2 linked regions of the Homo sapiens genome follow. The protein of the gene in region 1 purifies or fractionates together with the protein of each later gene. This does not show direct contact. Each region holds a gene or a part of one and is shown on either strand. Other genes may lie near its edges.

What was found.
Region 2: the proteins of UBAP2 (region 1) and ZC3H14 fractionate together in Homo sapiens (co-fractionation; one large-scale study listed by BioGRID). This does not show direct contact.

What each region holds. Positions count from the first base shown.
Region 1 is NC_000009.12:33,930,167-33,933,986, forward strand, and holds part of UBAP2 (ubiquitin-associated protein 2), read right to left. Parts: intron 3,463-3,820; coding exon 3,324-3,462; intron 2,463-3,323; coding exon 2,396-2,462; intron 1-2,395. UniProt on the Homo sapiens protein: Recruits the ubiquitination machinery to RNA polymerase II for polyubiquitination, removal and degradation, when the transcription-coupled nucleotide excision repair (TC-NER) machinery fails to resolve DNA damage. May promote the degradation of ANXA2.
Region 2 is NC_000014.9:88,621,999-88,625,348, forward strand, and holds part of ZC3H14 (zinc finger CCCH domain-containing protein 14), read left to right. Parts: 3' UTR 1-605; coding exon of another isoform or gene 606-720; 3' UTR 721-2,971; coding exon of another isoform or gene 2,972-3,129; 3' UTR 3,130-3,350. Other genes in the region: EML5 (echinoderm microtubule-associated protein-like 5), read right to left, coding at 606-720, 2,972-3,129. UniProt on the Homo sapiens protein: RNA-binding protein involved in the biogenesis of circular RNAs (circRNAs), which are produced by back-splicing circularization of pre-mRNAs.

The sequences.
Region 1 (3,820 bases):
ATAACACCATTTTGAGGATGCCATGGTGTAATAGGATATTTCATTCACCGCCAGTGGGAGGTAAACAGGGTTGAATCACTATGCGGGGCAATCTGCAAATGTGTATAAAATCATAAATGCCTTGCTGTTCCACATCACGTACTGACCCGCTACATACAGCTATACACATGAAACAACATATGTAGGTTATCAAATGCAACATTCTCTGTGGTATCAAGACTGAAAACGACCCTAAATGGACGGCTGCTTAAATAACCTTAAATAACATCATAAAGCAGAACTGTGGGGAAACAACAACAACAACAACAAAAAACCCTTAAGTTTCAACATGGAAACATCAAGATACACTTGTGGGGATACACAAGTGGGGAAAAAAAAGTTGAAGGACACTGTACATAAAATACTCTCATTTATGTAACAAGAGAAAAAGAATAAAAAGGGCAGATGATGGCCGGGCGCGGTGGTTCACGCCTGTAATCCCACCACTTTGGGAGGCCGAGGCGGGTGGATTACGAGGTCAGGAGTTTGAGACCAGTCTGACCAACATAGTGAAATCCCGTCTCTACTAAAAATACAAAAATTATCCGGGCATGGTGGTATGCGCCTGTAACCCCAGCTACTCAGGAGACTGAGGCAGGAGGATCGCTTGAACCCGGGAAGTGGAGGTTGCAGTGAGCTGAGATTGCGCCATTGCACTCCAGCCTAGGCGACAGAGTGAGACTGCATCTCAAAAAAAAAAAAAAAAAAAAAAAGCGGATGATAATGGGGAAATGACTACATGTATGCACTGCGTGTTTTGACTTTTATTTATTAAAAGGATGGAGAAAATGTAAGGGTAGAGCCAAGTAGATGAGAGACAGAAAAACTTTTCATTGTCTATCTTTCCATAACTTTTCAGATGAAATATTATGAACAAACAGTTGACCCCTGAACAACACAGGCTTGAAATGCATGGGTCCACTTACAGGCAGATTTCTTTTTCAACCCAATGCACGCATACATAATTTGAAAACACCCATATTTGGAAGGCTGACTTTTCCTATAGGTGGGTTCCACAGGGGCAACTGTGGGACTTGAGAATGTGCAGATTTTGGTGTATGCAGTGGTCCTGGAATGAATCCCCTGCATATATGGAGGGACAACTGTATTAGCAATGTCACAGTTCTGTCATGCTGACAAAGTATGGGACCCACTGGATGAGACGATTCTGGCTGTGGCAGGCTGGAATACATGGTCTGGAGGTTTTTTTTTGAGGAGATGGAGAGTGCAGCTCCCCATGAGTGCAGGAGCACTGGGCTCCCAGGCAGCAGTGGCACGGACACAGAGGACAGCTCCACGGCACTCCTGCTGAGGTCAGCTCACCACTCCCATGAGCCACAGAGGGCAGGGGCAGAGGGACAGGCAGAGGTGTCCACACTATGCTCTCCTTTGAAAGTGGCAGTTTGTGTGTTTTATGATAAAAGATTCTGTGTAAGGTTTGACTTGGAACACTAGAGTATGAAAGCCACAGCATTAGCCAGATCCAGAGGAAAGGACAGGATGTCCCTTTTCCACCACCTCACTCTGCTGGTGAGCTGCTGTCTTCTTCAGAGGACACCAAGTTCATCAGTTTCCTGCCTCCTCCATTCGTCTGCACCCTAATCCTTCCTCCCAGCCTGTGGACCTGCCTACTCCAACCTCGCCCAACACCTCCTGTTGTCCAGGAGCATGCACTTTTTGTTAATCCAGGCACCTTTCTATCCTCCCAATAGAGGCTCCAGCCTCTCTTAAGTTTTCATTGCATGCCCTCTACAATCCTCCTCCCTCCTCTCCATCTCACTACCATTCACTCCGCAACCCACCACAATCTGGCTGACTCCTACCACTGAAAGCCATGCTCACGGCTCCACGACCCACTGAGCCACACCTCAATAACCATAATCTAGGGCTACTCTTTGGCATATGAGGAAAATTAAAGCTGGCGCGCCGACTCCAGCCCTCCTGCCTGGCTTCTCGGCAGTGCATGTTTGCTTCCACTCCTGCCCTCCACCATCTAGACTCCCTTCTCCAACATTGACCTTCTTGCAATCTCTGCGTCTGAGTCAGGAAAGAAGGCACGAGGAAAGATCAAACAGCAAATTCCTGGGAGCAAGGTCACCACCTGACACTCCTGCCAATGACAGATAAGGTCTGGAGCAATGATTCTTCCCAGGCGCTACAAACTTAGAAAGCAAGATGTCCCCAGATGGTGCCCAGGAAATCAGAAGCTCGAACCAGATCATGCCATCAAGACATTTCAGCCAAGCAACTCTAGATTATCAGACACTAAAAATCAGACTGAAGCCCCAGCTGCATGTGACTAAGCTCCAGGCTCCCCAAGCATGGCGGAGGAAGAGGAAGCCGCGCAGACACTTACTGTGTGTGACGTGCTCGAGGAGAGGGCTGCATGTGCAGAGAGGCTGCTCTGGTGGCTGGAGAGCGAACTAGAAGACAAAACAGAGCGCCGTATGTCCACCTGAACAAGTGACTCCAGATGAACAAGACGCACGTGGGTCAGTGAGCTAGATTCAAACTTATCATAGTCCCTAGCACAGGACCGGCTTCAGACCCATCCTCATTCCTTATCCCCACAGAGCCCAGTGATGGGGTCCTGGTGGACGGGAATGACTCGCCATGAGGTCTGGAAAACTCCAGAGCCAGCTTCCCTCAACGACATCCATTTGCTCCTCAGATGCGAAAAGTGAAGACAGAGTTGCACTAAGAACACGGTCATCCTTGACAATCCCATTCAATCTGTGAACGAGGGATCAAAGTTCCTATGCTCAACTCCACATGCCAATTCCCATCAAATCCACTTTTGCTCCTAGCTAAAGAGTGATGGAGAACACTCCTCAGAAGACACAGGTAGCAACGCCACCCATTTTCCTACACCTTGTTCTAATAACATCGTTTCTTCAGCCATGGAAAGTTCAAGTCAGACACCTGCTCAGAAATCCATCATTCTCATTCCACCTCAGTGACATGGGCCCAGCGATGCCCAGAGAGGCTAGGCTCAGGCACCCTCTGGAGGGTGAAGACAGGTAGGAGGGAGCTGCTGGCCTCACCCTACTCCCAGGGGACCCAGTGCTCTGTGCCAGCAGAGGCGGTACAAGCAGGCAAGGTTTCCATATCTGGTGGTTTTAAGGAACAACCTGGCCAAAACCTAAGCTACAGTCGTAATGCAAAAGCCCAGGACATCACGTCAGAGACAACAAGTGTGCTCTGTTCATGAAAGCAACCTTCTACAGGAGCTCCAGGACTTGCCCCAAGGTACTTCTCACTTTGGGCCCACACCTTCCCCATACCTGCTAAGCTGAGAGAGAGGGCTGCTAGTCAGGTCGCCAGTGTGCTGGGATGTGGACGGCAGAAGTGCAGTGCAGGAGGTGGTGCTGGGCAGGGAGCTCACAGACGGGAGGGCAGAGGGAGGGCCTGTTGTCTTTGGAGCTGGAACAGATGAAGTAGCTGTAAGAAGCAGATCTGTTTATTTCTAAAACCAATCCTAAGTGCCTGAAAATATGCTCAATATCTTGTGACATGTCAGCCTCAGTTGAGACGTCCATAAAGTTACATTCCCCAGGAAAATGCCAAGCATATCGCCAGATAGCCCTTTGTCTGTCAAACAACACTATCAAAGGACACCACACCATGGTCAGCTGTTCAAGATGCAGCAAAGAATAGGAAATGACACCTTTATAACCCAACCTATCCTATATGGGGACATACTTTTCACACCTAAAGGAACCTAAGCTGTAGATGCATCCAGAAAGAAAAACAGGTGCTGAGCCTAATATGTAGAATTATA
Region 2 (3,350 bases), on another chromosome or scaffold:
GTATCCTTTAACCAGTCCTTCCCTATCCCCCTCCCCCTCCCCCTTGTCCGCCTCCAGTAACCACTATTCTACTCTCCACCTCTGTGGGATCAACTTTTTTAGTTTCTGCACAGGAGTGAGAACATGTATTTATCTTTCTGTGCCTGGCTTATTTCACTTCACATCATGTCCTCCAGTCTCATCCATGTTGCCACCAAGAATGACAGAATTTCATTATTTTTTATGGCTGAGTAGTATTTCATTGTTTGTTTACTGCACGTTTTATCTAGGGAATGTGTGTTTTTTTAAAAAATGGAGACAGCTGTCCTAATATGAGTCAACTGCCAAGGGCTTTCAATTATGTCTACTAGAGTTGTTAAATTGGCAGATTCTAGAAAATATTGGAGGTTTACATACAGTATTTAGACAGAATAGCTTCCTAGCTTATGCACCACACTGGTGCTAACTTTGGCAAAGAAAGCAGCAAAGACAGAGTAATGTTGGCAAGCAAATCCATCGTTATGCATTATTAAGTATTGTTCATTAGGCTGCAAAGGGTGAGGGAATCACAGTAATAACCACTTTCTGTTTTCTGCTGCACTGTATCAGCTCATGGAACATCTTACTTTGCCTCTGCACACAGAACGAACACAATCTGTGGCTTGTCCTGTCTCAAGCCTGAAGGCACGGCACCGCCTCAGTTCCTGATCCCACAGTTTAACCGCTCCTCCTTCTTTTGACCTAAGTAAATAACCAAGCCAGAGTAAGTGTTCATTATTGGCTACTATAATTTTTATTATAAACAAATACCAAGTTATAAGCAGAATCTTTTTTTTTTAAAAAGGCCCTGATATTTATAATTTACCTCTAATATTCTTGTAAACTTTCTATGGCAATTTGAGGATATACTATATCTCAGTCAAAATAAACATCCAGTTTCAGTGAATTTTATTTTGAGAAATACTCTTTTTTTCTGACATGAGCATAATTTTATTTAGCCTCTACAATACATTACAATACATTATCCTCTCTCATAATACTTTTTTTTTTTTTTTTAAGATGTAGTCTCGCTCTGTCTCCCAGGCTTGAGTGCAGTGGCATGATCTAGGCTTATTGCAACCTCTGCCTCCCAGGTTCAAGCGATTCTCCTACCTCAGCCTCCCGAGTAGCTAGCATTACAGGTGTGCACCACCACACCCAGCTAATTTCTGTATTTTTAGTAGAGATGGGGTTTCACCATGTTGGCCAGGCTGGTCTCAAATACCTTGACCTCAGGTGATCTGCCTGCCTCGGCCTCCCAAAGTGCTGGGATTCCAGGTATGAGCCACTGTGCCTGGCCTCATAATACTTCTTGATTAGGAAGATGTAAAAAAACAATTTTATTAAAAGGATAATGGAAATGTAAGGCAAAATAATAGAATTACAAATGCTATGCTACAGAGTTGATTTATTTATTTTTTTGAGACAGAGTGTCGCTCTGTCACCTGGCCTGGAGTGCAGTGGTGTGATCTCGGCTCACTGCAACCTGTGCCTCCCAGGTTCAAGCGATTCTTCTCCTTCAGCCTCCCAAGTAGCTGGGATTACAGGCACCATGCCTGGCTAATTTTTGTATTTTTAGTAGAGATGGAGTTTCACCATATTGGCCAGGCTGATCCCAAACTCCTGACCTCGTGATCCGCCCACCTCGGCCTCCCAAAGTGTTGGGATTACAGGCGTGAGCCACTGCAACTGGCCCAGAGCTTATTTTTGAAGGCCAAAACAGAAGCATATTTATTCCCTATCAGGTGTTAAAATATCTCACTGGAACAGTTTAGCAGGCTTCTAGTGAGTGGGGGTGTGCAGGAGTAAATGACGTGGGAAATACAAGTGTTGGAGGACGAAATAGAGCCCATTTATGGATTTTATTCCTGGAAGGGCTGAAAAATGTATTCCTTCCTTTTCTGCTAGATGAATTGCTTGTCTGAAAGCATGCCTATGTGCATTCTTCCTTTATGTAAAAGGCACAAATTCTGCGCTTGTGTTTAATTAACATATGTGGGTTCTTTCAATCCTGTATTGAAATGTACTTCTTAGTCAACTATATGTCACATTTTTTTTTGTTTTTGTTTTTGTTTTTTAAATGGGGTCTCACTCTGTCACCCAGGCTGGAGTGCAGTGGCACCATCACAGCTCACTAAAGCCTTGACCTCCCCAGGCTCAAGTGATCCTCCCACCTCAGCCTCCTGAGTAGCAGGGACTACAGGCATGTGCCACCACACCCGGCTAATTGTTGTTTTTTATAGCGATGGGGTTTCACCATGTTGCCCAGGCTGGTCTTGAACTCCTGGGCTCAAGCGATCCACCTGCCTCAGCCTCCCAAAGTGATAAGATTACAGGTGTGAGCCACTGTGCCTGGCCTACATGTCATGTTTCAACATGCATATGACTATGTTGGTGACAAATCAAATCATAAGTATCTGGTTACTGTTGGGAGATTTGAAAATCACTCAGAAGAGACCTCTTCTCAAATTTTGAGGTCTTGTATAAAACAGTTTAAATTTGCCTCAAGCAAAAGGAAACAAGGCAGTTCTCTCTAGTTCCCTCATCCTTTTCTAAAGCAACAATGTGCATTCTACTCCTTAGAATCCATTCTGAACAAAAAGAGAGCAGGCAGTCAAAATACAACCCTGGCTCCAGATTCCCCCATGGGCCTCCTACTCAGCAAATCATACACAGGCATACAGACATTAAGAAAAGTAACTCAACTTGTAGGACAACTACCTATCCACACCTCAGAAAAAGTATCACCCCAACATGAAAAAAATTGGAAGTGAATTAAGACCAGAAATGAGAATCAAATAGAAGGCACATAAAAGGTAATAAAGGAGAAGCATATGAGGAGGAAGGTCGGAGAGGACACTCTGTGTAGCCTAGAAACAACTAGAATAATTAACTGCAAACCTCAGGTAGGTCACAAATGCATAAATATTCTGTGAAAAGAAAGAGGACTCACGGCCTTTCCTTTCCCCCAGTCACGATAAGTCCATCTCGCAGGGTGGTGTACATGGCAAACACAGGCCCGTTGTGAGCTCTCGCCACGATTCTACACAATATGTGATCTTTCCACACACAGACATCACCACTGATGGTACCTGTAAACGTCAAGTTATTCTGAAAAGGAGTGGGGGAGGGGGAGACAAACTCATCAAAAGTTCAAATAGAGTTTAAATAGATAATTTTCTATGTATGTGTAATGCTGTCTCACCCTTGATACAAAGAGCATGCATCGTGTAGTGGCAGCAGCACTGAATTCACGAGTCAGGAAACCTGAACGGGAGGCTTAGCTTTGTCAGGACCTTTTCCTTTCCAAGTCTGTTGCTTATTAGCTAGAA